Homo sapiens: one gene and its partners. The protein of the gene in region 3 purifies or fractionates together with the protein of the main gene of each other region. This does not show direct contact. Each region holds a gene or a part of one and is shown on either strand. Other genes may lie near its edges. The genes, in order: LGALS9, RNF123, NAA50 and NDRG1.

What was found.
Region 1: the proteins of NAA50 (region 3) and LGALS9 purify together in Homo sapiens (co-immunoprecipitation; one large-scale study listed by IntAct). This does not show direct contact.
Region 2: the proteins of NAA50 (region 3) and RNF123 purify together in Homo sapiens (co-immunoprecipitation; one large-scale study listed by IntAct). This does not show direct contact.
Region 4: the proteins of NAA50 (region 3) and NDRG1 fractionate together in Homo sapiens (co-fractionation; one large-scale study listed by BioGRID). This does not show direct contact.

What each region holds. Positions count from the first base shown.
Region 1 is NC_000017.11:27,641,776-27,649,636, forward strand, and holds the end of LGALS9 (galectin-9), read left to right. Parts: intron 1-462; coding exon 463-573; intron 574-1,749; coding exon 1,750-1,845; intron 1,846-2,057; coding exon of another isoform or gene 2,058-2,183; exon of another isoform or gene 2,184-2,260; intron 2,261-3,538; coding exon 3,539-3,574; intron 3,575-4,085; coding exon 4,086-4,136; intron 4,137-4,771; coding exon 4,772-4,813; intron 4,814-5,254; coding exon 5,255-5,343; intron 5,344-5,494; coding exon 5,495-5,657; intron 5,658-7,060; coding exon 7,061-7,207; 3' UTR 7,208-7,785; downstream 7,786-7,861. UniProt on the Homo sapiens protein: Binds galactosides. Has high affinity for the Forssman pentasaccharide. Ligand for HAVCR2/TIM3. Binding to HAVCR2 induces T-helper type 1 lymphocyte (Th1) death.
Region 2 is NC_000003.12:49,708,042-49,715,902, forward strand, and holds part of RNF123 (E3 ubiquitin-protein ligase RNF123), read left to right. Parts: intron 1-4,437; coding exon 4,438-4,615; exon of another isoform or gene 4,616-4,851; intron 4,852-5,471; coding exon 5,472-5,546; intron 5,547-5,696; coding exon 5,697-5,784; intron 5,785-5,868; coding exon 5,869-5,956; intron 5,957-6,048; coding exon 6,049-6,133; intron 6,134-7,533; coding exon 7,534-7,673; intron 7,674-7,780; coding exon 7,781-7,861. UniProt on the Homo sapiens protein: Catalytic subunit of the KPC complex that acts as E3 ubiquitin-protein ligase. Promotes the ubiquitination and proteasome-mediated degradation of CDKN1B which is the cyclin-dependent kinase inhibitor at the G0-G1 transition of the cell cycle.
Region 3 is NC_000003.12:113,723,336-113,731,196, reverse strand, and holds part of NAA50 (N-alpha-acetyltransferase 50), read left to right. Parts: intron 1-7,101; coding exon 7,102-7,238; intron 7,239-7,655; coding exon 7,656-7,775; intron 7,776-7,861. UniProt on the Homo sapiens protein: N-alpha-acetyltransferase that acetylates the N-terminus of proteins that retain their initiating methionine. Has a broad substrate specificity: able to acetylate the initiator methionine of most peptides, except for those with a proline in second position.
Region 4 is NC_000008.11:133,250,577-133,258,437, forward strand, and holds part of NDRG1 (protein NDRG1), read right to left. Parts: intron 7,851-7,861; coding exon 7,790-7,850; intron 6,288-7,789; coding exon 6,201-6,287; coding exon of another isoform or gene 6,150-6,200; intron 4,020-6,149; coding exon 3,963-4,019; intron 1-3,962. UniProt on the Homo sapiens protein: Stress-responsive protein involved in hormone responses, cell growth, and differentiation. Acts as a tumor suppressor in many cell types. Necessary but not sufficient for p53/TP53-mediated caspase activation and apoptosis.

The DNA of each region.
Region 1 (7,861 bases), on a different chromosome or scaffold from region 3:
CCAGCCTGGCCAACATGGTGAAACCCCATCTCTACTAAAAATACAAAAATTAGCTGGGTATGGTGGTGGGCTCCTGTAATCCCAGCTACTCGGGAGGCTGAGGCACGAGAATCACTTGACCCACTGCACTCCAGCCTGGGCGACAGACTGACATTCCATCTCAAAAAACAAAAAAAAACAGTTGAAGGAAAAATAAATAATTAATAAATGAAACCCCAGGTGAGCTAAGACTAGAAAGACAAACCTACTGCAGGAAACAACCAGAAGAACGAAAAGTCCAACTGGAGCCTGGTAGAGACTCGGGTTGATGCACTTTGGGTCACACACACGTTCCTGTAACTGGCCCCACACTGAAGACCAGACTCAGGTCTTCATTTTCTAGAAAGAGGGTCCAGGAGCTCAGGGGTGGTCCCCATCCCAGCCTGGGATGCCTCCCCCAGAACATGTGCTCTCCTCTGGCAGGTGATGGTGAACGGGATCCTCTTCGTGCAGTACTTCCACCGCGTGCCCTTCCACCGTGTGGACACCATCTCCGTCAATGGCTCTGTGCAGCTGTCCTACATCAGCTTCCAGGTCAGACTGTCCACCTGGCACCGGTCCCAGGGGCTGGGATGCAGGGCCCAGCGTAGCTGTGTCTAAGCCCTGCTGGGTGGGCCCAAGCCAATCTCCTACCCAGGTCACTCTGGGGACAACCTCTGCTTCCCTGTCCCAGTACCTGCCCGCCCCTTCTCCTCTGTCACTCTGCCCCTCCTTCTGTGTTACTGTCTCTGTCCGGAACACCTGCCTTGGTCTCCCAGACTCCTCAGCTGCCCCTTTCTCTTCATCCCTCAGTTTCCATCCTGGTAAGGAGGGCATATTGTTCTAGAAAGAGCCCAGGCTCAAGAACCAAACTGAATCCAGTTCAAATTCCCAGCTCTGCCATTCATCATCTGTGGGATCTTAGACAAGCAACTTCACCTCTCTCAGCCTTGGTTTCTTCATCTGTAGAATGGTCATTGCCTGCCCCCCATGGGTGGTTGTGTGGTTCAGTGAGGAGACAGATATCAGAGGTCACACAGTGGCCCCCCTGGGCCCACACCAGGGTCTGTTTGACCTCTGTGTTTTAACAACTTTGAATGTGTTGCCAACATCTAAAAGGTCAGGAGAGTCAGGTATGGTGGTGGAGGTCTGCAGTCCTGGCTACTCAAGAGGCTGAGGTGGGAGAATTGCTTGAGCCCAGGAATTAGAGTTCTGTCTGGGCAAAACAGCAAGACCCTGTCTCCAAAAAACTTTGTTTAAATAATAAAATAAAATAAATAAAACTAAATAAGGTCAGGAGATACCAATACCATGTGAAAAATGGGAAGATTAGGGTATGCTGGGCCCACATTCCCACAGGGCACCAGCAGCTGGGTGGGAGCTGCTGTTACCCTTTTGGCATTCGAGGCTGCTCCCTGAGATCAGCGAAGCACACAGTAGGCCCTCAGCAAATCTGGGCTTCTCGCCCTTTGGTCCTCATCTCTCATTCCCTCCTTCCCTGACTCTCTCCCCTGCGGGTGGTAGGGGAGGGAAGAGCTGGAGGGAGACCGCACCCCTGCACTGCTCACCAGAGCCTGGCTCTTTCCCATCCCATCTTGGCAGGGCCCTAACCCCCTTGCCTCATCGCCCTGCCTGCCTGGTCTCTCCCTCTTGCCCCTGCCTCTGCCTTTCGGCTTCTCCTTGGCTCTATTAATGCTTCTCCTCACTGCCCGGTGCCTTTTGTTTTAACAGAACCCCCGCACAGTCCCTGTTCAGCCTGCCTTCTCCACGGTGCCGTTCTCCCAGCCTGTCTGTTTCCCACCCAGGCCCAGGGGGCGCAGACAAAAAGTGAGTTCAACACAGAGGCCCTGGGTGGCCGAGCAGACAGTAGGAAGGACCGAGGGTCTGAGAGGCTGGCCCCAGCCAGCAGGCCACTCAGGGCCTACAGGCCGCATCTTGCCCACCCAAGAGTTCCCTGTCTCTGTCCGCTGGGCACCCAGAGCTGGGGACCTGGGGGTCACCCTGGATTCTTCACTCCCTCTTCTTTACGTCTCTCCAAGGCACGAACGTGTCTCCCTCCTGAAGCCACCGATGTGGTCCAGGCCTCTGGGATTCCTCACCATGACGACAGGGGTCCAGTTCCCCACCCCCTACACCCAACCACTGCCACAGTGACCTTCTTATAAGCAAATGTGATCACACCCTCTCCCTGCTTAAAAATCTTCACAGCCCCCAGCCCTTCAAATAAAGCCCAAATTCTCCAGCAGGGTATATGAATTCCTCCCCAGTCTGCCCCAATCCACGTCCCTGCCTCACCCCCAACCCACGAAGCTCACGCAGCCTCTGCAGCTCACTCAAGGCCCTCTTGGGCCACCATGCTTTTGCATATGCTGTCCCTGGTCCCGGAAGCACCCTCTGCCAGCCTGCCTCGAGCACATGCCTAATTGCCCTTCCATGCTCTGCCTAAGTGCCGCTCCTCTGGGAGTCCTCCCCGCCTGGAATATTGTTGGACGCTCCCCTGGTGTCCCCACAGAGTCTGTATGTATCTGTGCCATGCCAGTTCACAGCACCCCATTGTAACTGTATTTGCGTGTCTGTCCCCGTTACTCCACCCCCATGTCCCTATGCCCATGAGGCCCCAGAGGGCCAGGACTGTGGCTTGTTCATTTGCACTGTGCCTGGCACTCAGTAGGGACTCAGTGAATGAATGTGGAATGTGGTTCACACAGCCAGGGAGAATGGGATACCAGCCAGGGCAAGAACAGTCTACTGGGTGGGGCAGGATCCAGGACAAGGAGGTGAGCAGCCCTTCCTCCGGCCACTCAAGTAGTGGGGACTGGGAGGAGGGGCGCTTTGTCTACGCAGTCTTCTTATGGCTCATCACCGTACAGACAGGGCACCTGCCTCCTGCCACGCTGACTTCAGGACTGGTCGAGCCCCAGGGAACATTTGCAGGGCAGCCCAACTTTGGCCCTGGCCCTGGCGCTGGCCCTGGCTCTGGGGAGGATAGAAAGTGTGCTGGATACAGTCAGACAGAACTGGCTGCCACTTTGGATTTGATCCCTTCCACCTTGGCAAGCTTGGGCAAGTTGCTTAATCTTTCTGAGCCTCGTTGCCTCACTAGGGACACAGGAGCTGAGGCTGCTTCCCTTGTTGGAAAGCACTGAAGCCCAGGAATCGACCCACAATAGGCCTTCAACAAATACCACTTCTCACCTTATGGGTGAAATATGGCACTGGAAGTAATGCTCTTCGCTGTGGGAGCTACAGAAAGCAATGAGGTCTCTATCAAACCCAGTCTCCTCTCTCTCGAGAGGAACCAGTGGGGATACCCTACCCCCCAACCCCAAAGCCCTGTACACCTGGGGGTAAAAATCTGGGTGCCACGGGCTCAGGAAGGCTTGCTTGGGAGCAAGAGGGAGGTGGGTGTGTCCGGGGAGGCATTTCTGAGCACAAGAGCCTCCCTGGAGTTTTGCCACCATCTCCTCCCATTCTGTGGTGCCCGCGATAACCACCATTCTGACTCTCCTCACCCCTCCAGCCTCCCGGCGTGTGGCCTGCCAACCCGGCTCCCATTGTAAGTCTCTTGCTTTCTTTTTGGATCGTCCTCATTTTGGCTTTTCTGGGCTCATGGAGGAGGCAGGGCCAGGCATTGGGCCTCTCCCATTGGGAGTGGGGAGGGCACAGACCAGACCCTTGACCATCTGCCCGGCCTGGTGAGGTTGGGGGTTGGATGTGGGGGTTGGATGAAACAACCTGAGTTGCCACCCCGTGGGCAGCCACGGAAGACCATGCCCCACATTCACTTCTGTCACCTGCAAAGGGAGGCTAGGCTGAGAGACGTTTCCCCGAGAGGAAAGATGGGCCAGAGCCACCAGCGTCCCCATCTGTCTTCTCCAGGGTTCTAACCTTTGCCCCTCGCTCATCCCCTTGAGAGAAGAGACACCTGGGCCCACCCTCTGTGGGGTCTGTGGGGCCATTGGGCTTGTTACGCCCCCTGGAGGGTGCCTGCCGTGTGGCGCCCTCTGGTGGGAGCTGGTGGTTTTCACACGTGAGAGCCTGGGTGAGACCTGGTTTCTTTCTTCCAGACCCAGACAGTCATCCACACAGTGCAGAGCGCCCCTGGACAGATGTTCTCTGTAAGTCTACAAGTTCTGGTCAGTTCACAGCTGCACAGTGTCCTCCTTCACCAAAAACTAAACTCCCTAGAGCCCTAGAGTCGGGAAGAAAGCGGTTTAGCAAGGAGGATGGGGACACTAGGGGCTGAGTGCTTGGCTCAGGTGACATGTGGCTAAAGCTGTCCTTGGGACAGCAGAGATTCTGGAAGAAGCAGGGTTTATCCAGTGGTGGAAGAGACAAGTCCCCTAGAGACCGGGAGGGAAACTGGTCCATCTGTCACCAAGTGGGGAGTACAGTGGCCCCAGCACCCGGATGTGAGGTTCCTGGCCCTGCATCCTGGGTCCCCAGGATGTCACTATTGATCACAGGCTTAAGCTCTTCTCCTGATGGTGCAAATGAGGCAGGGGGGCTTAGAATTAGTGGGGCTGCCTGCGGAGGGGTTGAGGGGCAGGTGACCGTGGTGTGGTCTGGGAACACGGCAGGAAGTTCCAGGAAGGCTAACATGAAAAGGGAGGTAGACGGGCGAGTCCAAGGGCCAAAGGCTCACGAGGTCAGCCTCACAGTGGAGTCCTCTCTAGAACGCGTGGGTGCGCCTGGGTGAGTGCTCGCGCACCCATGTGCTCTCCCATTGAATTTCCTGGTTTCTTTTCAACAGACTCCCGCCATCCCACCTATGATGTACCCCCACCCCGCCTATGTAAGTGGTTTCTCAGGGAGGGCAGAGGTTCTGTTTGTGGTGGGCAGGCTGGGGGTGAAGGGCCGCTGTGGGGGGATCCACTGGCCTTGAAAAATTAAAAGCAGTCATTTGTTAAGCTGAAGGGCTTCAAAGCATCCCAGCGAATTAGAAGGCTGTGGAGAGGAGCTTTCAACCTTAAAACTGTCGTGTCAATATGAGCACATTGCATGTCCCTCCCTTTTCACCCCACGAAACGAGTCTTTTTGTGTTTGGCCAAAGTTCCTTTCATGACACTAATCTAAGCCCATTAATTTGAGGAGCACTGGAAAGTTTTCCTTTGGCTTTTATGGAACCAAGTAAAGATATCATGGGCTTCTTCTCAGCTGACAGCCCAAATTCATGGGAACTGGTACAATCTTCCCCTTCCGCGTGGTGGCTGACCTGTCCCCCTTCTTCCGACAGCCGATGCCTTTCATCACCACCATTCTGGGAGGGCTGTACCCATCCAAGTCCATCCTCCTGTCAGGCACTGTCCTGCCCAGTGCTCAGAGGTAAGCCAAGGGCTCCAGTGACCTCTGGGAAGAGAGAGCCCTTCAAGGTCAGTCCAGCCATTCCCCTGGCTTCAGGAAGGCTACTGATGATGGGGAGGAAATGGGACTCAGAATTCGGTGGATAAAGGTTCAGGTGGGCTGCCCACCCCAGGTTCCACATCAACCTGTGCTCTGGGAACCACATCGCCTTCCACCTGAACCCCCGTTTTGATGAGAATGCTGTGGTCCGCAACACCCAGATCGACAACTCCTGGGGGTCTGAGGAGCGAAGTCTGCCCCGAAAAATGCCCTTCGTCCGTGGCCAGAGCTTCTCAGTAAGGCACCGCAGTCTGGAGCTTGGAGAGGCTCCCATGGGTGCACAGGGGGAGGGGGTAAAGGAGGTTTGAGGTACCTTGAACAGTATGGGGGCTGATTCCTCTGGGATGAAGGCCCAAAAGAAGAGAAGGTGGCCAACAAATTATTATTATTATTACTGTCCCGCATGAAGGAAGTGCTGGGATCTGCTTTTTCAGATGAGGAAACAAACTCACAAGTGCAGGTTACTTGCTTGTGGTCACACAGTCAGTAAGTGTCAAATCAGACCCAAGAAGGAGGTGTTATTCATTTCTTCATTTACTCAACAACCATTTTCTTGTCGCCTGCTTTGCGCAGGAAGCACCCCACATGCTGGGGGCACAGTCATGAAGCACACAGACAGGGTCCTGCCTCCAGGGAGTTTATAATTTAGGTGGGGAAAGAACAAGGAAAGTAAAGCATGGACAGATTGTCACAGATAACGACAGTGCCACGCACAAAGCAAAACAGAGCGATGAGATAGAGCGAGCCTGGGAGGGGCAGCTAGGGCCAACGTGCAGAGGCACGGGTGTGGCCTGTCCAGGAACAGCAGGCAGGCGTGCTCCACCCTGACTACATATTCAAATCACCCAGAGAGCTTACAAAGGAAATATCAGTGCTGGGACCCCAGCCCAGGCCAATGAGGCAGTCAGCTGGGCATTCGTATTTTAAAAATATGCCTTAAGTGATTATACTCTGCAGTCAGAGTTGAAAATGACTGATGTAGGGCTTTGCAGCCATGGAAAGGAGCTTGGATTTTAACACAGTGAAAAGCCTCAGGAGTGTTTCAAGCCAGGGAGCAACATACTTTGATTTGTAGACAGCTGTGTGACCTCGGACAAGTGACTTAATTATTCTGTGCTTCAGTTTCCTCATCTACAAAATGGAGCTAATAATCATGAATTTCCTAGAGTTGTAAGAATGGAATGAGACAGTATCTGTAGTATGCTTAGGACAGTGCCTGGCAGGTGGCATGTGTGATAGGAGTGTTAGCTATTGCAAAGGGAAGGAGGTTTTAACATTTGTACCCTGACTGCTTCGTGGAGAAGGCATTGGGGTGGAAAAGACAAGTTAGGAGACTGATGCTGCAGGAGCCCAGGCCCAGAGCACTCCTGTGTGCTGGGCCTGAGGGATACAGACGGCACAGGCCAGTGCTCCTGTCCCTGATGGGGTGGGAACAGTATTCTAGACCAGGGAACAGTACAGGGGAAAGAGCACGCACAGCCTGTTTAGTGAAGAGCCGTCGTTCAGTGGGGATAGAGTGCAGGTGAGGGGCTTATTAACAACTGAGGAGGGAGGGAGGGTGGGAGGGAGGGAGAGAGGAGGCTGCAGTGAGGGTGGAGGACTTCCCAAGTGTAGTGCAAACGGCATGATCTCTGCACAGGTGTGGATCTTGTGTGAAGCTCACTGCCTCAAGGTGGCCGTGGATGGTCAGCACCTGTTTGAATACTACCATCGCCTGAGGAACCTGCCCACCATCAACAGACTGGAAGTGGGGGGCGACATCCAGCTGACCCATGTGCAGACATAGGCGGCTTCCTGGCCCTGGGGCCGGGGGCTGGGGTGTGGGGCAGTCTGGGTCCTCTCATCATCCCCACTTCCCAGGCCCAGCCTTTCCAACCCTGCCTGGGATCTGGGCTTTAATGCAGAGGCCATGTCCTTGTCTGGTCCTGCTTCTGGCTACAGCCACCCTGGAACGGAGAAGGCAGCTGACGGGGATTGCCTTCCTCAGCCGCAGCAGCACCTGGGGCTCCAGCTGCTGGAATCCTACCATCCCAGGAGGCAGGCACAGCCAGGGAGAGGGGAGGAGTGGGCAGTGAAGATGAAGCCCCATGCTCAGTCCCCTCCCATCCCCCACGCAGCTCCACCCCAGTCCCAAGCCACCAGCTGTCTGCTCCTGGTGGGAGGTGGCCTCCTCAGCCCCTCCTCTCTGACCTTTAACCTCACTCTCACCTTGCACCGTGCACCAACCCTTCACCCCTCCTGGAAAGCAGGCCTGATGGCTTCCCACTGGCCTCCACCACCTGACCAGAGTGTTCTCTTCAGAGGACTGGCTCCTTTCCCAGTGTCCTTAAAATAAAGAAATGAAAATGCTTGTTGGCACATTCATGTGGGTTGACCATGGCTTCTTTAATTCATTTGGAGACATTTTGGAGTCTGTGGAATCGGGCGGGGGTGCTGCTGA
Region 2 (7,861 bases), about 64 Mb from region 3:
AATGGCATGATCTTGGCTCACTGCAACCTCTGTCTCCCGGGTTCAAGCAGTTCTCCTGGATTATAGATGTGCTACCGCGCCCAGCTACTTTTTGTATTTTTTGGTAGAGACAGGGTTTCACTTTGTTGGCGTGGCTGGTCTCAAACTCCTGGCCTCATGTGATCCTGCCACCTCGGCCTCCCAAAGTGCTGGGGTTACAGGCGTGCGCCACTGTGCCCGGTCACCCATCATAGCCATTTTTAAGTGTTAAGTCTATTCACATTGTCGTGCAGCCAATCTCCACACTCATTTCATCTTGCAAAACTGATACTCCGTGCCTGTTGAACAAAACCTCCTGTCCTCCCTTCCCCAGCTTCCCTGACAGCTCCCACCCATCCCCACCTGTCAGCAGATCCCTGGGTCTGGCAGCTGGGGGAGCAGTGGTTCTGGCATCAGGTCCCTGAGTGCTCTGGCCAGCGGCTCACAGACCCCCAGCTGGGCCTTACTTCCATGTCATGAGGGGACCACCATGGCCCTGTTCTGAGGCTAGCTCAGGTTGCCCCTGGCAACCACCATCCTACTTTCTGTCTCTGAATTTGACTATACTAAGCACCTCATCTAGGAAGAATCATACACTATTTGTTCTTTTGTGTATGGCTTTAGCATAATGTCCTCAAGGTTCATTCGTGTTATAGCATGTGTCAGAATTTCTTCATTTTCCAGGCTGAATAATATTCTGTTGTACGGACACCACATTTCATATATCCAGTCCTTTGCTGATGGACACTCGGGTTGCTTCTACTTTGGGCTACTGTGAATAATGCTGTAATGAACATGGGTTTGCAAAGATCTCTTTGAGACCCTAATTTCAATTCTTTTGGTTATATACCCAGAAGTGGAATTACTGTATCATATGGTAATTCTGTTTTTTATTTTATTTTTAATTTTAATTTTTTATTTTTTTTGAGATGGAGTCTCACTCTGTCACCCAGGCTGGAGTGCAATGGTGCGATCTCGGCTCACATCCTGGGTTCAAGTGTTCTCCTGCCTCAGCCTCCCGAGTAGCTGGGACTACAGGTGCGCACCACCATGCTCGGCTAATTTTTGTGATTTTTTTTTTCTTTTTTTGAGGTGGAGTTTTGCTCTTCTTGCCCAGGCTGGAGTGCAATGGCGCGATCTCGGCTCACGGCAGCCTCTGCCTCCCAGGTTCAAGCAATTCTCCTGCCTCAGCCTCCTGAGTAGCTGGGATTACAGGCATGTGCCACCACGCCCAGCTAATTTTGTATTTTTTTTTTTTTGAGACAGAGTCTCACTCTTTCACCCAGGCCGGAGTGCAATGGCGCTATCTCAGCTCACTGCAAGCTCCGCCTCCCGGGTTCACACCATTCTCCTGCCTCAGCCTCCCGAGTAGCTGGGACTACAGGCGCCTGCCACCACGCCCGGCTAATTTTTTGTATTTTTAGTAGAGACAGGGTTTCACCGTGTTAGCCAGGATGGTCTCGATCTCCTGACCTCGTGATCCACCCGCCTCGGCCTCCCAAAGTGCTGGGATTACAGGCGTGAGCCACCGCGCCTGGCCTAATTTTGTATTTTTTTTTAGTAGAGATGGGGTTTCTTCATATTGATCAGGCTGGTCTTGAACTCCCGACCTCAGGTGATTCGCCCGCCTCGGCCTCCCAAAGTGCTGGGGTTACAGGCGTGAGCCATCGCGCCCTGCAATTTTTGTATTTTTTGTACAGATGGGGTTTCACCGTGTTGGTCAGGCTGGTCTTGAACTGCTGACCTCAGGTGATCCGCCTGCCTCGGCTTCCCAAAGTGCTGGGATTGCAGGCATGAGCCACCGCGCCCGGCCAATTCTGTTGTTTAATTTTTTGGAAACTACCATATCATTTCTACAGTGGCTGTGCCTGTTACATTCTCACCAGTAGTGCATGAGGGTTCCAATTTCTCCATACATATCCTTACCGACACTTCTTATTTTCTGCCCTTTTTTTTTCTTGGTAGACGCAGGGTCTCACTATGTTGCCCAGTTGTCAAACTCCTGGGTTCAAGGAATCCTCCTGCCTCGGCCTCCCAAAGTGCGGGGATTATAGGCATGAGCCACCACACCCGGCAATTTCTACTTTTTTAATAGTAAATCCTAATGGGTAGGATATGGTACCTTATTGTGGTTCTGCATTTTGCTAATGATTAGTGACATTATGACAAATAGTACCTTTACAAGCACTTATTGGCCATTTGCATATCTTTTGTTTGTTGGTTTGTTTGTTTTGTTTTGAGAGGGAGTCTCGCTCTGTGGCACAGGCTGGAGTGCAGTGGCAAGATTTTGGCTCACTGCAACCTCTGCCTCCCAGGTTCAAGCGATTCTTCCACCTCGGCCTCCTGAGTAGCTGGGACTATAGGCATACGCCACCACGCCCGGCTAATTTTTGTATTTTTAGTAGAGATGGGGTTTCACCTTGTTGGTCAGGCTGGTCTCAAACTCCTGACCTTAGGTGATCCGCCTGCCTCGGCCTCCCAAAGTGCTGGGATTACAGGCTTCAGCAACCGCGCCTGGCCATATCCTATAATTTTGCTGAATTTATTTATTAATCCTAGTTGGGGTTTTGTGTGTGTGTGTGTATCTTTAGGATTTTCTACTTATAAAATCATGTCTGTGAACAGAGATAATTTTACTTTATCCTTTCCAGTGTGGTTTCCTTTCTTTTTCATGCTTAGTTGCTCTGGCTGGGATTTCCAGGACTGTGCTGAGCAGAAGTAGAGAAAGTGGCACACTTGTCTTGTTCTTGGTCTGAGGGAGGGAGGGATTATAGTCTGTTACCACTGAGTGTGATGTTAGATGGAGGCTTTTCATATATGGTCTTTATTATGTTGAACTGCCTTCATTCTCTGCATCTTCAGCACTAACTCACCTGTGTCTTTCTAATCCCATTATTAATGGAGAGATTCACTCCTGTAAACCAGCACTTTGGGAGGCTGAAGCGGGAGGATCACTTGAAGCCAAGAGTTCATGACCAGCCTGGGCAACCCATCTCTACAAAAAAAACAAAATTTAATTAGCGGGGCATGGTGACACATACCTGTAGTCCCAGCTACTCTGAGGTCAGGAGTTCAAGACCAGCCTGGCCAACATGGCGAAACCCCATCTCTCCTAAAAATACAAAAATTAGCAGGGCGTGGTATCACATACCTGTAGGAGGATCACATGAGCCCAGGAGTTCCAGGTTACAGTGAGCTGTGATTGTGCCACTGCATTCCAGCCTTGACGCTATATGTGCCCAAAAGTTATGCTCTCTCCTTCTTTCTCTGTCTTAGCTGCTACATCTTCCCCTTCATCTCCCTCCAGCACAGGCTCTTCCCCATCTCTGAAATAGTCTCACCAGGGTCTCTGTCTGCCCCCATCTCAATCCGGCCGGCACATTTCCATCTCCTTTGCATTGATACCTTAGCTCTGATGGGGCCATTGCCAGCCCCTCACCAGACACAGTCTTCGCTGGCCTTCTGTAGCAGCAGGATCATCGCTGCCTAGGTTTGCGCCTAGGCCCTCCCCTAACCTCTTGCTTACATCTTCTCCTCAGTTCCTTGGGCTTTAGGGCACATCAGAGAGCTGGTGTGAAGCCCAGGTGCTGTGACCGCACTCCAAGACACACGGGTGCTGTGGGTCTGGGCTGGGGCCTGAGGCCTCATTCTTGCCTGGGCTCCTTTGTGAGACCCTGACATAGACTTTGTGGAAACCACATTGTGGGGAGCAGGGCCCTCAGCAGGTTTTGTCTGTTTCCTGTGACCTCTGTTCCACCAGTCACACTGCCCCCTGCTTTCCCACCACCTTCTCCTTTGCACTCCAGATCAAATTTCTGCCTGTCTGCTTACCATCGCCAGCTCTCTTGGGCCCTTCACACACCTTGTACTCCACTTTTCCACACAGACTTCCAGTCACAGCACCCTCTTGCCTAAAACTTGCTTACAGGCTGAGGCAGGCAGATCACCTGAGGTCAGGAGTTCAAGACCAGCCTGGCCAACATGGCGAAACCCCATCTCTACTAAAAATACAAAAATTAGCCGAGCGCGGTATCACATACCTGTAGTCCCAGCTACTCGGGAGGCTGAGGCAAGACAATCCCTTGAACTTGGGAGGCGGAGGTTTCCAGTGAGCCAAGAGGGCGTCACTGCACTCCAGCCTGGGTGACTCCATCTCAAAAAAAAAAAAAACTTGCTTACAAATATGCTGACCAGAGTTCTGGCCTGGGTCACAGTAATGCGCCCTCCAGGCTGAGTGCGTCCCTCTTGCCTGCTGAGGACTTGATTGCCCTGCTTGAGCTACTGCTCATGCTTCCTGAAATCCAGGTCTCAGTTGTGCTGTCGTAGGCCTGGGGAGGCCTTTCCTGATCCCCAGGCCAGGACATGCCCCCAAGACCCCACTGGTGCGCAACCCAGCAGCACCCCGTGTGCCTCCTGCAGGAGAAGATGCTGGACATCTACTGGCTGCTGCGCGTCTGCCTGCGGACCATTGAGCACGGTGATCGCACAGGGTCTCTCTTTGCCTTCATGCCCGAGTTCTACCTGAGCGTGGCCATCAACAGCTACAGTGCTCTCAAGAATTACTTTGGTCCCGTGCACAGCATGGAGGAGCTCCCAGGTGATGGAACCATTCAGGCTGAGGCAGAAGCAGAAAAGGGGTCTCTAGTGTGAGCCCTAGGAGCCCTGGTCTGAGACCTCTGTGGCCCAGCAACACACTTCTGTGGGGGGCGGGGAGGGGAGGAGCTTCCTCTGTGGTTCACCCTGCAGCAAACAAACGTCTGCACCCTGCCCTGGGACCTGCAGCCACAGAGCCAACAGCTCCCTAGCAAAGGAAAACAGACAAGATGGAACACGGTGGGTGTAGACCTCTTGGCTTTCACTTCCTTCCTAGTGCTATGAGCAACTGCCATGGTCCAGGAGCCAGCTGGCCTTGCACCTTGACTCCCTGGCACTGGTCACAAAGCGTAGCAGTTGGTCAGGGGCAGAATGGTTTGTCTTGGTAAATCACAGCAGGGGGTGGACCCTGCTAGGGTCCACATCCGAACCTGGGCCTCTCAGCCTGCTGATTCCAGGCTGGGCGTGGCAGTGTATGTCTGGATCAGGCAGTGAGCTGTCAGGCCCCTAGCCTGCCCCCTGCCCAGCCACAGGCCTCAGTGCAGGCTTTGTCTTCAAAGACAGAGCTGTGAGTGCCCAAGGAGCTTTGACTGCTCATCAGGTGTGTGTGCTGAGATGGGTTTGAGCCCAGGTCAGGGCTCCTGCCAGGGCCTGTCATCCCTTCACAGTGAGCCTGTGCCTTAGCCCTTGCACAGCCACCAATGAATGCTTTGCCCGATGTCCCCAGATGCCACCCTGGGTCCAGGCTGGCCTTGGGAGCCAGCTCTAGAGCCTGCTACCCAAGTCCACCCACCCTGCTGACATGCCTGCCTCTGGAGCCCCCACTCCCAGCCGACACGTCTCACTTCCCACCCTTGCAGGCTATGAAGAGACCCTGACCCGCCTGGCTGCCATTCTCGCCAAACACTTTGCCGACGCACGCATTGTGGGCACTGGTGAGGGGCCCCTACAGAGGGTACAGGGGGAGGGGGATGGGATGGCACCTCTGGTCGGCTTTCTTCTATGAAAAATGTGGCCAGGTGGGCATGAAGTATGGGTCCAGGGCTCATGCCAAGCCCCTGCTGAGGCACGGTGTGTCCCCGCAGACATCCGAGACTCACTGATGCAGGCCCTGGCCAGCTACGTGTGCTACCCACACTCCCTGCGGGCTGTGGAGCGAATCCCCGAGGAGCAGTGAGTGGGGCCTGGGGGGCACACACCCTGGCCACAAGCACCATGCCCAGCCTCACCCCGTCTCTCCCCTCCTTGCCCTCACAGGCGTATCGCCATGGTGAGGAACCTCCTGGCGCCCTATGAGCAGCGGCCCTGGGCCCAGACCAACTGGATCCTGGTGCGGCTCTGGAGGGTAAGCCTGACTCGAGGGGAAGTGGCTGAGGCTGGCTGGAGGGAGAGGGTGCGCTGTCCCATTGACCTGGGCACTGACCCCCACCTCCACAGGGCTGTGGCTTCGGGTACCGCTATACACGGCTGCCACATCTGCTGAAAACCAAACTTGAGGACGCCAATTTGCCCAGCCTCCAGAGTGAGTATCTGGGTTGGGCGAGTCCTGGGCAAGGCAGGCGGGGGCGCTTACCTCCTACCCATGGGTTCTTTCAGACTCTCCACTTCTTCCAGCCCCTCTCTGGTTCCCCCATTGGGTCCCAGACTCCCTACGTGTCCCCTGGGGTTTCCACTTTCCCTGCTTCCTTCCAGCCCAAGGATACTCGGGATGGGACTCCCCCTCCCCAGCCTTGCCCACAGTCTTACCTACATGTGCCCTTTGGGCCTGGATGCTCTATGTGGGTCATGGTGAGAGGCGGCACCATGTTCCTGGCCTGCTACAGCTCATGCAGACTGAATACTCTGTCCCTTGCCCTTTAAGCTAGCTCCCTGACCTCCAGCCTTGTCCCAGCACCATGTCCTTCTGCTTCTTTTTTGCTATCTGCTGGTGGCAGACCCTGGCCTTGGCTTAGGCCTTGGACACCTGAGTCCACTGGGAGCACAGATTGGAGGTTGGCCAGGTCCCCAGAGGGTATTCACGAGAGTTCCTGGAGGAAGGGACATTTAGTTGGGAGCAGAGGCTGTGCCCTCTCTCCAGGGTCCAGCAAGGACTTTCCCCTAGGCCTGGCCCTTGCAGAGTGCCAGGTGTGCCACACACTGTCCTCACCCTTCATGGTGGCTCTTCTTGGCTCATGTAGTCTGTTTCTGCCCTTGTGGGCAGTGTTTTGGTCCAAAGGGTGTCCCCAGAGAGGCTGAGTGTCTTCTGCTAAGTCACACAGCAAGTCCTTGCCAATTGCCGTGGTCCTGCGTCCAGGGCGGAACTGAGCTGCAAGTGGAGAGCGGCAGTGGGGCCAGGCCTGTCCTGCTGCTGCGGGAACTATTGATTTGTATCAAGCTGGTGGGGAGGTGCGCCAGGCCCGTTGCAGCTGAGGGCTCCGGTTACTGCTGCCTGCCAGCCCAGACTTGGTGCCCACCACCTCGGCCATATGCCAAGGCCAGGCCAAGGGCAGCAGAGGACAGTAGAGGACAGCAGGTTTGCAGCAGGGCTTAGAGTAGGCTCTTGGAGGAGCTGGCCTTGGTGCCGGTGGGGAAGCATCTAAGCCGCCCTGTTTAGGTCTGACCCTATCTGAAGGGTGTGCGACCCAGAACTTGCTGAGGGTCAGGCTGTGGCTGTGTGGCTGCTCTGGACCTGGAGTGGATGGTGTGGTGTCAGGGCTGGACACAGCTGCAGCCTGGGGCTTGCCTAGTAGAAGGAGGGGACAGATTCTGTCCCAACTAACTCCAAGGCAGCTGTCCTCTGTCCCCTGCTTTCATGACCTGAGCATTCCTAGGGAGCCATCTTTCTGTCCTTATACCAAAGCCTCAATGGGCGAGGACAGAGGCAAACAGGCAGAGGCCACTGCAGTGGAGTCCCTGATGATGCCGCCTCCTGTCCCCCTGCAGAGCCCTGCCCTTCCACCCTGCTGCAGCAGCACATGGCGGACCTCCTACAGCAGGGTCCTGATGTGGCACCCAGCTTCCTCAACAGCGTCCTCAATCAGCTCAACTGGGCCTTCTCTGAATTCATTGGCATGATCCAAGAGGTGGGCTGTGGTGGGGCCTCGTGGGTTAGGGTGGTGCAAGGGATGAGGCCTGGTCCTGGGCTAGAGCCAGGTGCTGACCACTGCATGCCCACGTGTTGGTGGCTCAGATCCAGCAGGCTGCTGAGCGCCTGGAGCGGAACTTTGTGGACAGCCGGCAGCTCAAGGTATGTGCCACCTGCTTTGACCTC
Region 3 (7,861 bases):
AAGAAAAACCAGTTTTTAAAAAATTGACAAGAAATCTGAACTAATTAATTTATCAAAGATGATAACATGAATGGCAAAGAAATACATGAAAAGATGCTCACTTCATTTATTATTTAGGGGGATGCAAATTAAAAACCACAATAAATTGTCACTACATACCTGTTAGCATAAATTTTAAAAGTTAACAATGCCAAATGCTGATGAAGATTCAGAACAGTAGAACTCCTATACACTTAAGACCTAGCATTCCCACTCCTAGGTATTTACTAAGAGAAATAAGAACTTATGTTCATACCAAAACTTATATGTAAATGTTTATAGGAATTTTACTTGCAGTTACCTAAAATTGTAAACAACTGCTCTTCAACAAGAGGATAAATTTACAGTACATCCACATAATGGAATACCATTCAGCATTAACAAGGAATGAGCTATTGATATGCACAACACCGGGGTGAGTCTCAGACATTATGCTAAATGAAAGAAACCAAACAAGCAGCTATGTATTTTGTGATTCCATTTATGTGACATTCTTGAAAAGGCAAAACTTTGGGGAACAGAAAAGAGATTTGTGGCTGCTTGGGAGTTGAACTTTAAAGGGTCATGTGGGAGGTTTTGGGAGTAATTAAATTGTATATTTTGGTAATGGTTACATGATTATATGTATTTGTAAAAACTCAGAACTATACACCAAAAAGATGAATTTAATTTTATGTAAGCTTTAAAAAGTTTTTTTTTTTCTTTTTTTTTTCCGAAAGCCAAGGAATCAATCAAAACTGATGCCCATAAAAGGCAGGAAAATGAAGAACAGTTAATACTTGGTACAAATAGAAAATTGCAAGCTGATGGACTTGAATCAACTAAATCAGTAATTCAATAATTACATTAAATCTTTTTTTGAACAGTCTCACTCTGTCACTCAGGCTGGAGTGCAGTGGTGGCGATCTCGGCTCACTGCAACCTCTGCCCTTGGGTTCAAGCAATTCTCCTGCCTCAGCCTCTCAAGTAGCTGGGACTAAAGGCACGCGCCACCACACCTGGCTAATTTTTTGTATTTTTAGTAGAGACAGGGTTTCACCATGTTGGCCAGGCCAGTGTTGAACTCCTGGCTTCAAGTGATCCACCCGAGTCAGCCTTCCAAAGTGCTGGGATTGCAGGTGTGAGCCACTGTGCCTGGCCCATTAAATCTTAATGGACCAGATACTCCAATTGTCAGATTAAAAGAATAAGATCCAACTATATGCTATTTACACACACTTTAAATATAAGGACACAAGGAAAAGTAAAAAGAAAAAGGTAAAAGATAGAACATGAAACTTTGATTTGAAGGAAGCTGTAAAGCCAGGCCTGGTGGCTCATCCCTGTAATCCCAGCACTTTGGGAGGCTGAGGCAGGTGGATTGCTTGAGTTCAGGAGTTCAAGACCAGCCTGAGCAACATGGTGAAATCCTGTCTCTACCAAAAATACAAAAACAAAACAAAACAAAAATAGCTGAAAGTGGTGGCATGCATTTGAGGTCTCAGCTACTTGGAAGGCTGAGGCAGGAGGATCCCCTGAGCCCGTAGGCGGAGCTTGCAGCAAGCCAAGACTGTGCTACTGCACTCTAGCCTGGGCAACAGAGTTGAGACCCTCATCTCAAAAAAAAAAAAAGAAAGAAAGAAAACTGCGTATTAATGAACAAAGTAGACTTTAAAACAAGGAGTATTGCCAGCAAAAAGGATATTTCAAAATGATAAAAGCGTCAAATTATCAACAGTAGTCCTAAATATTTGTGCACTTTCTAATTTGAAAATACCTGAAGCTTTCTTTTATTGATTGAATGAAACAGCAGAAAGGAAGAAACACTTCCAAACTTTCTTTGAGGCCAAGATAACCCTGATAAGAAAACATATCAAGAATATTACAAGGGCTGGGTGCAGTGGCTCACGCCTATAATCCCAACACTTTGGGAGGCCAGGGTGGGCGAGCCTATCACTTGAGGCCATAATTTCAAGACCAGCCTGGCCAACATGGTGAAACCCCATCTCTACTAAAAATACAAAAATTAGTTAGGAGTGGTGGCACATGCTTGTAATGACAGCTGTTTAGGAGGCTGAGGCAGGAGGATTGCTTGAACCCAGGATGCGGAGGTTGCAATAAGCTGAGATTGCACCGCTACACTCCAGCCTGAGCAACAGAGGGAGACTCCGTCTCAAAAAAAAAAAAAAAGAAAAGGAAAAAAGTGTATCAAGAGTAAGCCTTTTTGAGATACCATGTGAACAAAGACTTGGAGTTAACATATACTGCAGCCAAGGATGGAGAGGCCATCAATTGACAGGAAAAACTGCAAGCAAAGCAGATTTTGGAACAAAGATTTGAAATTGTTTGCAGTATGTTCACTTTGAAGTGTCTGCTGGAGATTGCTTGGATCTAGGAATGTAGAGTTCAGGAGTGAACTATAGGCTAGAGACAGAAATTTGGAAATTGGCAGCATTAAAGCCACACAACTACAAGATTGAATGAGATCACCAAGAGAATAATTATAGAGAAGATAACCAAATGCGTCCATATACGAGGCCGTCATAAAATTGGTTCTTTTTCAGCTTCCGCATTTATACACAAGCATACTTGATGTTTTAGCCATATCAAACTGACTGATTTTCGGACTACATCACTGCTGTTTTGTTCATGTTTTATTAGACTGCATCTCTTGCCCTTCCACAGGATAAGCTAGTCGTTCTTCAAAATGTTTCCCATTGTCACCTTCATTCTAGTATTATTTTTGTACTATATGTACATACACTGTTAGTAGCACATTGTATATACCTGTCTTTCCTACCAGATGTAAACACCTTTGCATTCCAGATGCATAACACATAGATACTCAAATATTTATTGAAATATAATTGATTTATGCTTTAGGCAACTCTATTATGTTCATAAGAACTTTAGAAAAATTTAGATTGACAGAATTTTTTAAATCTCCATTAGGTTAGTTTTTTAATAGAGAATTTGGACTTTTAACTTAATTTTTTATAGGTTATTCTAACTAAAACCTTTTTGGTTGTTTACATTCAAGTAATGTTATTTTCTTGACATGTCTACATATCCCTTATGCTTATGCCTTTTTTTTTTTTTAACTCCGTGTTCCTTGCTAACTTATATTTACAAGTTGATTATAGTACTTTGATATATTTAGAAAATCCATGTCTTAAAATAATTTGGAGCTAAGTGATCAGGATTACAGAAGTATTCCATTTCAGTCAGACATATCATGTTAATGAGAGTTAAACTATATTTGAAGCTCAGTTTTGCTGACAAGGTTACATTAAGTGAACATTTTGAAATTTTTCTAGCATATTTGTTTCTTGCAAAAATCAAATTAATTTCTCAAAAACAGCTTAATTTTTCCAACAGCTACCAAACAATACTTAAATCTCAAATTTGTTTAAAGCGTGTATATACATATATATAACGCGCATAGAAAAATATTGGAAGACTATCAGCAAACTTATTTCTGGCCATATTATTGCAGGATATTTTCCCTTTCTACGTCATTTCTATGGTGTGCTTTAAAAAAAAAAAAGGCATGTATTTTTTTAATTAGTTAGGGGAAGATTAAGCTGCCTATTTCCTAATGGTTCAATATTGTTTTCTCTATTTAGGCTTTATCTGGCCACCCTAATGGAAACTTTTTTTAGTAGTTAACTTTTATTAGACTCATTGTAGCACAGTGCACTATAACCACTTTTTCTTCTTGTATGAAGTCAAGAAATACCTGGTATTATTCTTTGAAAACTGTAAGTATGCTTGAAGCCTAGTTACTACCTACAAATGATTCCTAAAGTTTTAAAAACCTCAAGTTCTTTCATTTATACTTTAGAAGCTTGACTTTGTAGGTTCTTAAGTTACTATTATTGTTGATACTTCAACTTCATAATGTAATTTTAAATCACTTTTTAAATACTAAGACTTTTTTTTAAATGAGATGCTCTAAATTAATACAAACTGTATATAAAAAAATTACTACACCCAACTTGTGGCACTATGGTAAGTTAAACAGGAGACAGTGTAGGTAAGATGTGATCCCTGTCAGCTACTGCATTTTTAAAGGATCCTATATTTTGGCCAGGCACAGTGGCTCACGCCTGTAGGCCCAGCACTTTGGTAGGCCAAGGTGGGCGGATCACTTGAGCTCAGGAACTGTAGACCAGCCTGGGCAACATGGTGAAACCCTGTCTCTACAAAAAATTCAAAAATCAGCTGGGCGTGGTGGCATGTGCCTTCCTCAGCTACTCGTTAGGCTGAGGTGGGAAGATCACTTGAGCCTGAGAAGCGGAGGCTGCTGTGACCTGTAATTATGCCTGGGCAACAGAGCAACCCTGTCTCAAAAAAAGAAAAATAAAGGATTCTATAGTTTACAGGATAACAGTATCCACAGATTTTTCTTTCTTTCTTTCTTTTTTTTTTTTTTGAGGCGGAGTCTTGCTCTCTCGCCCAGGCTGGAGTACAGTGGTGCGATCTTGGCTCACTGCAACCTCTGCCTCCTGGGTTCCAGTGATTCTTCTGCCTCAGCCTCCCGGGTAGCTGTGACTACAGGCACGTGCCACCACACCGGGCTAATTTTTGTATTTTTAGTAGAGACAGAGTTTCACCATATTGGCCAGGCTGGTCTCAAACTCTTGACCTTATGATCTGCCCACCTTGGCCTCCCAATTTTTTTTTTTTTTTATGTGAATGGTAGATAGTGGGGAAAGTGAGCCCAGTAGATTTTAGTCAGAAAAGTGTTATGAAGAGGGGGAGTTCTGTGAATGAGATGTAATCTACTTAAAGAAAACATGAATTTCATACAGGGAATTCATTATAGTTGTCAAATACTTGGGATGAGAAAAGACTATACTTAAGTGACTAGAAGTTGGAAGAGACTATAACAAGAAAATGTCTATTTTTTTATTTTTACTTTTTTAAACTTCCTATGGTGCTGAGGGGTTTTTTAAATATATAAATCTCTTACCCTTTTACTAACATGTTTGTTTATTTAATCTGTGTGGTTGCTAAGAAACTATGTTCAGATTTTAGGAAGACATACAAGACATGAAAAGATCATTGGTTGCAACAAATAATACAGATTAGTGGTATAAAAAATAATCAAGGCAGGAAGGATAAAGTTCCAAATGAGCTAAGCCTTTCAAAACTGCTAAGTATGACAGAAACGATGCTTTATGCTGTCTTTTGTGTTCTTCATACAGACTACTTAAATAGGGGGTAAAAGTCTCTTGTTTTTGCCTCTAACTCCTTACCAAGTAGAATGTTCTCCAAACTGGGCATTATAGAGTAATACATCTTAGAGAACTTTGTACTATAAGATAAAATATTACATCATATTCCTCTCCAGATAAATCAAATTTAGAAATTTCTTTTTTTATCTGTAATTATTGCTGTTTTTTGTTTTGTTTTTGAGACAGTCTGTCACCCAGGCTGGAATGCAATGGTACACAATCATAGCTTACTGCAGCCTCGACCTTCCAGGCTCAAGCAGTCCTCTCACTTCAGCCTTCTAAGTAGCTGGGACCATAGGTGCACGCCACCACACCTGGTTAAGTTTTTTTAAAAAAATTTCTTACAAAGTTTTGCTATATGCCCAGGTTGGTCTTGAACTCCAGGGCTCAAAGGATCCTCTCACCCCGGTCTCCCAAAGTGCTGGGATTACAGGCCTTCATGCCCAGCTGTTTTTTTTTGTTTCTGTTTTTGTTTTTTTGCATTTTAATCTAAATTTTAACATTTCAAAATACAGTTTTTAAAATTACAATTTCTACTACAAATTAAAATCCTTTCAAGCATGTTTTTGTATATGTTAACAAAAGTCCGTTGTTAAATATAGTTGAAATGTGCTTTTTCTCTACAAAACACAATATGCTACAACATCTTTTTGGGCAAATAATACGGATGGAGCAAAAAAATTGTAGAATGCTGTCAGGTTTGCCTTATCACATTTGATCCACCTTTAACAGTATTGAAGTTCACTTCAGCTATTAAAAATTCTTTGTTTACAGCTCTGCAGGCAGAATACCTTTGATACTTTGTTAGAAATTGGAACTGAAAATTTTTCGCTTTAATCTTTTCCATGGACCCAATTGTTTTGATTACAAGTGGTTTCTTAGGAATGCTCCTTTTATTAGTCCTTTCTCATGCTGCTAATAAAGACATACCCGAGACTGGGTAATTTATAAAGGAAAGAGGTTTAATTGACTCACAGTTGCGCAGGGATAGGGAGGTCTCAGGAAACCTATAAACATGGTGGAAGGGGAAGCAAACACATCATTCTTCACATGGTGGCAGGAAGGAGAAATGAGAGCGAAGTGAAGGAAAGCCTCCTTATAAAACCATCAGATCTTGTGAGAACTCACTATCACGAGAACAGCATGAGGGCAACCGCCCCCATGATTCGCCGGGTCCCTCTCACAACATGGGAATTATGGGAACTACAAGATGAAATTTGGATGGGGACACAGCCAAACCATATCACTCCTGTTGCTTTCTTAATGGATAGTTTTCATCCTGGGGTGATTTTCAAGATGGTGGATTCCTTTGTTTCGTTTCCAGCAACTCTGGTTCTGAAAATGGGGTATGTGTATCCAGGAATGTGAATTTTGCATATCACCTCTGTGACTCTGATGTAGGTAGTTCATAGACCACGGTTTTCATGAATAGAATGTGCATGGTATTGCATACCTCCATTGTTTTCTTAGAATAAATTACTAGAAGTAATAAGATACTTGGGCAAAGGAACTGTAATTTTACCAGAAATAGGTGTATCTAAATTTTTCTGAACTATGAACTACAAGGAAAATTTTGACACTTGCAGAATGTTATTCTGGCCTTTGTAGTAGTCGTTGTGTACCATATTTGTCCCTGAATGTATGTAATTATATGAAAGCTATGAGTAGAATTTGTATTGAATGACTGTCAAAATTTGCTTATAAATGATAATTTGCTTATAAATCAACTCTGAAAGAGTTGGATTTATCAATCATGTAAAAAAGACTTGGTACCCCTTTCATATGTTCATATTAACAAATGGGGCTAATTATGTTTTATTGAGTACATTTTGATTTGTTCCAGTAGCCGGATCGAGCTGGGAGATGTGACACCACACAATATTAAACAGTTGAAAAGATTGAATCAGGTCATCTTTCCAGTCAGCTACAATGACAAGTTCTACAAGGATGTGCTGGAGGTTGGCGAGCTAGCAAAACTTGGTATAATATAGTTTTTTTTTTGTCCTCCCTTCTTTTCTTTCTTTTTGTTCTTGAACCCTAGTTTTTTATAGAGCAGAAGAAGTTAACTAATTTAGTTTGTTTATTTTATAAGTGAGGAAATGGGAGTGGTCTAGGTTGTGAGAAAAATCTCAGAGAAATCAGTTGAATAAAACAGTTGAATTTTAAAAAGAAATGCTTAGTGTTCTTAGTGTATACCTGTGTGTTTTCACTTTAAGCTATACTCTAGAGGAGGCTTAAACTTCCTAAGATGGCATAAGAGCTTTGAGATCATTGATATTCATGAAATAGTTGATGAAATTTAATGTTGATAGGAACAGTGTAGTCCTTTAAAAGGGAAAAAGATTAAATGTGTTATTCTGTCTGTTCAACATTATATCTTTATGTTTTCCTTGGCAGCCTATTTCAATGATATTGCTGTAGGTGCAGTATGCTGTAGGGTGGATCATTCACAGAATCAGAAGAGACTTTACATCATGACACTAGGATGTCTGGCACCTTACCGAAGGCTAGGAATAGGTAAAAAATTGTGGTTTTTTTACTTCTTCAGAGAAGCATAAACATATTATTTGTTAATGTGTCTGACCTAGTAAGTTAATTTGGGT
Region 4 (7,861 bases), on a different chromosome or scaffold from region 3:
CGCACTGTGGCCCTGAGCTGGTCACTACTCTCTCCATTCTCCAGGTTATTTGGAGACAAAGTAAAGATAATAATGCCTAATCCACAAGACAGCGACGGACCTAAAAAAAAAACCTTTGGGAAAGCAACACGCCCAACCAGGTGCAGACAGGGGTTTCACTATCCGCTGGGAGCAGAAAAGACCCCCATCCTGGAAAGGCCACACCCCACCCTTCCAAACTCATTACTTTGGGAGTTTCAATTTGAAGTCAGACATCCTGGATCTAGAGCTTAGCTTCATCACTGTCCCTTTCGTAGGCAAATCTTTCAACCTCTCTGAGCCTCAGATCTCTTAAAAAAAAAAAAAAAAAAAAGGGAAGAGAGAGAATGTTGCCTACTTCACTAGGTTGTAGGACTTAATGGAGGTTGTGTTCTCACCTCTACTAACAGTAAAAATTGGAGGCAAATGTTAGTAATTGTTTTCCAATGGGAAGAGCTGAAAAGAAGTTTTTCATGCTTGAAAAGCAAAATCAACTCATGCCACAGGAAGTTACTGAAAAGAAGGGCAATTGCAACTCCCACCACGGCCAACCAGAGCCTTGGGGAAGTCGGCCTCAGCCTCCCCGTCTCTGGGTGCTTTTTGAATGTTATTTGCGACAAACAACTTGTTTGCTCTGTTTCTCATTTGTACGAGGGCAGACACTGTAGGTTTCACACAAGGGTCTGATATGACCAGTGGCAACCAGATGAGAAGTTGGAGTTGGGGGTCAAAGAAAGCCGGTGTCAAGCTTGAGCTGCATCAAACAGTCCAGGATCATTTAGGCAGCAAGGAGGTCAACTGGCTACTAAGAGCAAACTCTGGAAAAAATAGTCAGGAATCACGCTGGGATTTCAGATCAAAACCAACTATAGCGATCTGGGGGTACCCTCAGACACCATGGCCGGACCAACCAGTCTCCAAATAACTTGGGGTATAATCAGATCAGATGCTCAACGCTATGTCTGACATCCCTCCTCCAGTGAAACAGAGACAGTGGCTGTGAATTTTTCCCAATTCCTATCAGTTTCAGATTACACACTCAGGACAGGGAAAATGTGTCACACGCTGTGGAATGAATCGTAAAAGGGGAAAGAGGACTCTAGTGGGCTAAACTGTGGCCCTCAAAAGATATGTCCATGTCAAATCTCTTGAACTTGGGAATGCAAACTTGCTGGGAAAAAGGGTTTTTGCAGGTGTAATTAATTAAGGATCTTGAGATGAGATAATCCTGGATTACATGAGCCGGGATGAAATCCAATGGAAAGTATCCTTAAAAGAGGAAGGAGAGGGAGAAATAAAACAGACACAGAGGAGAAGACCATGTGAAGACAGAGGCAGAGAGTGGTGTGAGCAGCCACTAGCCAAGGAATGCCGACAGCGACCTGGAGCAGTAAGAAGCAAGGACGAATTTCCCCTGGAGCCTGTGGCGGAGGGGCGGCCCTGCCAGCGCTTGACATCGGAGTTCTAGACTCAGAGCTGTGAGAGAATACACTTTTGTTTTCCTTTTTCTCTGTTTTTGAGACAGAGTCTCCCTCTGTCTCACCCAGGCTGCAGTGCATGGCGCGATCTCGGCTCACTGCAGCCTCTGCCTCCCAGGTTCAAGTGATTCTCCTGTCTCAGCCTCCCGAGTAGCTGGGATTACAGGCGCGTGCCACCACATCCGGTTAATTTTGTATTTTCAGTAGAGACGGGGTTTCACCATGTTGGCCAGGCTCGTCTCGAACTCCTGACCTCAGGTGATCCACTCGCCTAAGCCTCCCAAAGTGCTGGGATTATAGGTGTGAGCCACCCTGCTCATCCCACTTTCGCTGTTCTAAGCCATCCTGTTTGTGGTAATTTGTTACAGAAGCCACAGGAAACCAACACAACAGGCAAACCTAGCAGTTGTACTCGCCAACTCCAGAGTGGAGCCTCTGTTCCCCTGGTACACTCGCCAACTCCAGAGTGGGGTCTCTGTTCCCCTGGTACACTCGCCAACTCCGGAGTGGGGCCTCTGTTTCCCTCGTACACTCGCCAACTCCGGAGTGGGGCCTCTGTTTCCCTCGTACACTCGCCAACTCCAGAGTGGGGCCTCTGTTCCCCTGGTACACTTGCCAACTCCAGAGTGGGGCCTCTATTCCCCTCGTACACTCGCCAGCTCCAGAGTGGGGCCTCTGTTTCCCTCGTACACTCACCAGCTCCAGAGTGGAGGCTCTATTCCCCTCGTACACTCGCCAACTCCAGAGTGGGGACTCTATTCCCCTCGTACACTCGCCAACTCCAGAGTGGGGCCTCTATTGCCCTCGTACACTCGTCAACTCCAGAGTGGGGCCTCTATTCCCCTGGTACACTCGTCAACTCCAGAGTGGGGCGTCTGTTCCCCTGGTGTACTCGCCAGCTCCAGAGTGGAGGCTGTGTCCCCAGGACTCATGGGAGTGTCAGATGGTCACACATGTTAGCTCAGAAGCAGACAGTGGTATGTAAGCAAAGCAGGTCACTGCAATTTCAGGCAACCAAGGGGTTTTCCAGACCCTGGGCTTGCAACCAAGCCCATGGCATACCCTTCCCGAGGGTAGCTGGCCCCAGCTAGAGACACAAAACCAGTGTCTGGGGCCAGGCAGGCTGGGCTGATAAGATGACTGCTCACTTCTAGCATGCTGTGAGGGGCTTGGCTCAATCCCCTTTAGTGGGGTAACTCTGCAGAAGAGCAGCTCATCTCAGAGCCAGGCAGCAGCACAGGCAGCCGCCATCCTGCTGTGGTGACCAGAATGAAGCCAGATTCATAGGTTCTAATACCGGCCCCACCTCTCCCTGGTTGAGACCCTATGCAAGTCACTCAACCTCTCTGGTCTGTTTCCTCTTCCATAAACTGGGAATGAGAACAGAATTTATCACACAGGTCACAGAGCACCTGGGTGGAATCCTATTCCTATAGTTAACACTTGTGAAGCTCTTAGGACTGAGCCCAGCCCAGCACACAGCTAACTCCACGGACATGTTTGCTACTGACCAGATTTATAACAGCCCAGAACTGGGAACAACTCAAAGGTCTTATCAACAGGTGAATGGAAAAACAAACTGTTGCACATACATAAAATGGAATACTTCTCAGCACTAAAAAGGAATAAACTTTTTTTTAAGAGACAGGGTCTCTCTGTCACCTAGGCGGAATACAGTGGGCTATCCCAGCTCACTGCTCACTGTAGCCTCAAACTCCTGGGCTCAAGCAATCCTCCTGCCTCAGCCTCCCAAGTAGCTAGGACTATAGGCATGCAGAACCACCATGCCTGGCCAATTTTTAATTTTTCTGTAGAGACAAGGTGTCACTATGTTGCCCAGGCTGGTCTTGAACTCCTGGGCTCAAGCAATCCTCCTGCCATGGCCTCCCAAAGTGCTGGGATTATAGGAATGAGCACTGCACCCCGACTAGGAATAAACTATTGATCCACTCATTAACATGGACAAATCTCAAAATGGTTATGCTGAGGGAAAGAAGCCAGACCAAAAAAAAAAAAAAAAGAGTACCTACTATATAATGCCATTTATATAAAATTCTAGGAATTGCAAAGCAATCTATAGAGGCCAATGCTGATCAGAAGTTGCCTGAGGAGGAGGGAGAGGAGGACTATCAAGGGGCACAAGGAAACTCTTGGAGTGATGGAGACGTTATTCTCCTGATTACAGGGATGGTTTTACAAATGTATATGCATGTCAATTGTACACTTTAAATATGTGCAGTTAATTGTACTTCAATCAGCTGTTTTTAAAAGACACATAAAAAAGAGAGAGAATGAATGACTTGTTGCTTATGAATGAATAATGTCACATTATCTCATGAGCACCAGCTCGGTGGCCCCCAGTTGATTGTGTCTTGTTCTCTCCACCCCCACATGGGGCCCTGTGCTGAGCACCACACAATGCCTTGCTCAGCAGGAACAACAGATTTGCCAGACCACGCAACTCACCTTCCCAAAAAGGTGGGACACCACCATGTCCGGCAGAGCTTGGGTCCATCCTGAGATCTGGAAAGGAGTAAAGTGGGTGGATGAGAAACCAGGAGCTAACAGTAGTTAACAAGGTCAGCAAAACCCCACTTCCCTGGGTGCAGGGTGGCATTGCTGGACTCCCCCCTACATGCAGGCCTCAAGGACATCCCCCTTGATAGAAACTCAGTTCCTGTCTCCAGTTCCCTCCTGGACCTGATCCCCCAAATGCAGGGCCTGGGACTATATCCAGTTCCTTATTTTCAGAGGCCCATGCACAAGATGCACAGCAAATAAGTGCTGAATAAAGACCCAGCTACTGCTAGCTTACCCTGCTCCAAACATTCACCAAGTCCTCAGCAAAGAGGGCCATCCATTCACCTCTTCTAAAAACACACTGAGCTCCCCAGTCTATACCCCAAGATATGCTTGGCTCCCAACTATCCCTCCTCTCTCATCTCCAAGCCAGTTTCCCCTTTCTAAGTATACTGATATTACCAAAGACACTGACAATCTTCTTTTCCTACCTCTCCCCAGTGACTAGGTTTGCAGCAGGAGCTCTATAAGTCCTAGTATACAGCAGAAGCTCCATAAATGTGTGCTGACCTAAGCATTAGGCAAAAATGAGTAGGAGAGAAGCTCTAGACCTAAGGGTCTTTGGCTGGCCCTTGCCTGCCACAGCCTAGCTGTGTGGCACTGGGCAGTCTGCATACCTCTGGGTCTCAGACTTCTAATCTGGAACTGGGAGTGCCAGGAACTTCAAGGCCACAAGGTCAAGGGAAGGACTGCAAGAAGTAACTGCACACATCACAGTATCTAATACCAATGCCTGGTAATCGAAAGGCTGGAGTTGAAAAAGAAGGGAATAGTACAGCTATTAAAGCTGTACTGAAGGGAATAGTACAGCTATTAAAGACAATCCTCAGGCTTCACATTAGCCAGTGGTCGACATCCCCAGACCTTCGAGTCTCACTCAGGACAGCTATCATGAAGCCCAGCGGGTTGACTGGAATGTCACTTCCTTTGCTGGAAAATCAAATAAAAAACAGGGAGTGTGTTCCACTCCAGAACGTCATACAGGCTGGACGGAAGGGCTCCTGCATTCTGGAGGAATGTTCAAAGAACAAATGCAAAATCACAGTGGCTGGTACAGGGCAGGGGATGGGGCAAGAGGCAGGGCCCCTTCAAACCATCGGTCCCTGGCAGCCACCCAAAATTGGGCAAAAATGCACTTGCAGAATGAGAAGCTGCGATCACCTCAGCTTGAAAGACTCTGTCCTATTTCAACTGGAATGACCTCCCCCTCTCCTTGGCCAACACTGAGGCCTTTACAGGGAAAAAAACAAAAACAAAAACACCACAATGATAATTTTTAAAAGATAAACAAGGAACCTTAGGACACCAGCCAGGACAGAGCTTCCCAAGACAGCACAGGTCCCTTCTCCTCCAGGCAGCCTACCCTGCTTGCCAGGCCTGCCTGTCTCCCACCCTGGACAGGAGCCCCAGGGGCACGGGTGGTCAGGTCCACGAACCACAAAGTCAAAGCAAGCTGCATCCAGTCCCCGTTCTACTGCCTAGCTTTATGTGACCCTGGACAATCCCCTTAGCCACACCGAGTCCTTACCTCTGAAACGGTGATAAAAATTCTCACCTCCTAGAGTTACTATGAAGATTAACTGAGATCATGCACACACAGCAACGTAGAATGAAACTAGCACATGGTAAACTCTCAATCTACGTTAGCTAATTATTATCGTAAAATTCTGTGGCACAGTCCGTACTAAATACATATTTATTTTTCTTTAATAATATGTGAATGGATTCCTAAGATTCATTCCTAGAGGCTTTTGTCTTGTTCATCTCAAGAAGTCTTGTTCTTCAAGATGCTCAGCATCTTGACCAAAGCCTGGCACAAGTTATGTACCCAGCTAATACTCATTAATCCAAGCAATGCTTCTCCAAGCTGCCTCAGGGACCTGTGTCCCAGTGCTTTCCCTGGCTTAGACAGCTTGGTGGTATTTAAGTCTTCTGAATGGCAAACGGCTGAGGTCATGTGTACTGTTCTAAGTAAAGCAGAGGGAACTGGAGTGGGCAGTAGAGGGTAGTGGAGGAGTGGGTAAAGAGAGAGCTCGTAGCTCCAGGGATCCCCCAGGCAGAGGCTGTGTGCACCTGTCCCTCTTCTTGCAGGGATCCCGCCGGCCTGACAGGCCCCCACCTCACCTTGGAGGCGGCCCAGTCCATCCAGCCTTCCGCACAAGGGTTCACGTTGATAAGGACAAGGCCCTCCACCATCTCAGGGTTGTTTAGCTGCAATTCAAGACACAAAGTGAGACAGACATCCCAGCAATCTGAAACACTAGGAACTTTCCAAGGCAAACCAAAGCTTGAGAGAAGTACCCAGAAAAAGGCAGTGTGGGCAGCAGAGCAGGCTGCTGCTCCCCGGCCCCACCCCATGCAAAACTGAGGTTCCAGCACAGCAGACACGGTATCGGGTCCTAGAGAGAGTGGGAAGGAGAAAGAGGAAGTGCAGGAGAAGTAGGAAGCCCGCTGCTTTGCAGGCCTGCCTTGGGCAAGTCACTTCAACCCACGGAGGCTCAGCTTCTCCAGCTATCAAATGGGTGTAACACACCATCGACCTCATCAATCAAACAAGGCGCACAGCACAAATGCTCTCTAGTTGTGGCAGTAACAACTGTATTACTTACTTCCAGGATAAACACATGCATACACACACACACACACACACACACACACACACACAGAGAGAGAGACAGAGTTATGCATCGCTGAATAACAGGGATACTTTCTGAGAAAATTCATCATTAGGAGATTTTGTCATTGTGTGAAGATCTCAGAGTATACTTACACACACCTAGACAGTATAGTCTACAACTCACCAAGGCTGTATAGAACAGCCCTTTGCTCCTAGGTTTGCTGTACAAACCTGTACAGCATATGACGCTACCCAATACTGCAGGGAATTGCAACACAATGCTAAGTATTGATGTATCTAAGCAAATCTAAACATAAAAATGGTACAGTAAAAATGAACCATTATAATCTTATGGAACCACTGTCAAATGTGCAGTCTGTCATTGACCAAAATGTCATTATGTGATGCAGATACATACAGATATAGATATGTACACCTGGGGTACAGTTGAGACCATTTTTAATTTGCTGAGAGCCTATATGGCCAGACCATTTTGTATTCATGTCAGCATTCCTTTCTTTTTTTTGTAAGATGGATGTTGTAGAATCATGTCAGTATTCCCAACCTCCAGCAAAGCCCAGCAAATAATAGGTAGTCAAAATACCAATGGATGTACAAAATGAGTATTGTTGCATTCTTACACAATTGCTCGGTGAGGATACAAAGGAACAGTGGCTCTTGACCTGAGCCCAGAGAAATAACAATGACAACTGTCATGAAAACTTCCCGTGTCTGATTCTAGTTTAGAATCAGTTATGACCCAGGAGTGCCCTGACTACAAAAACCTGTACAGCTGTTACAAAGCAGTGTCATAGCAGAGTACTCAGTGAGTGAGGAGCGTCCTCACTAGATGGCTAAGCGGACAAAGCCCATGACAAAGGAATGTGTCCAGTATCATCCTTGAGTGGAGGAAGAGAAAAGGCTGTGAGTATATATATATACGAGTACCCATGCACCACACACACACACACACACAACTGTGGAGAATACGGGTCATTTCTTTTTCCCTTTTGGGTTTTTGATGCTTTTCCAATGTCTTCCTTCATCTTAAAATGTTATTTAAAATGCGATTTTCAAAAAATGCCAAAGCACTCACAGCAAATCGAGTTAGGATGTAGGCGCCTGCTCCTGTTCCCATGCCAATAATGCTTTTCAGCCTGGAAGCAAA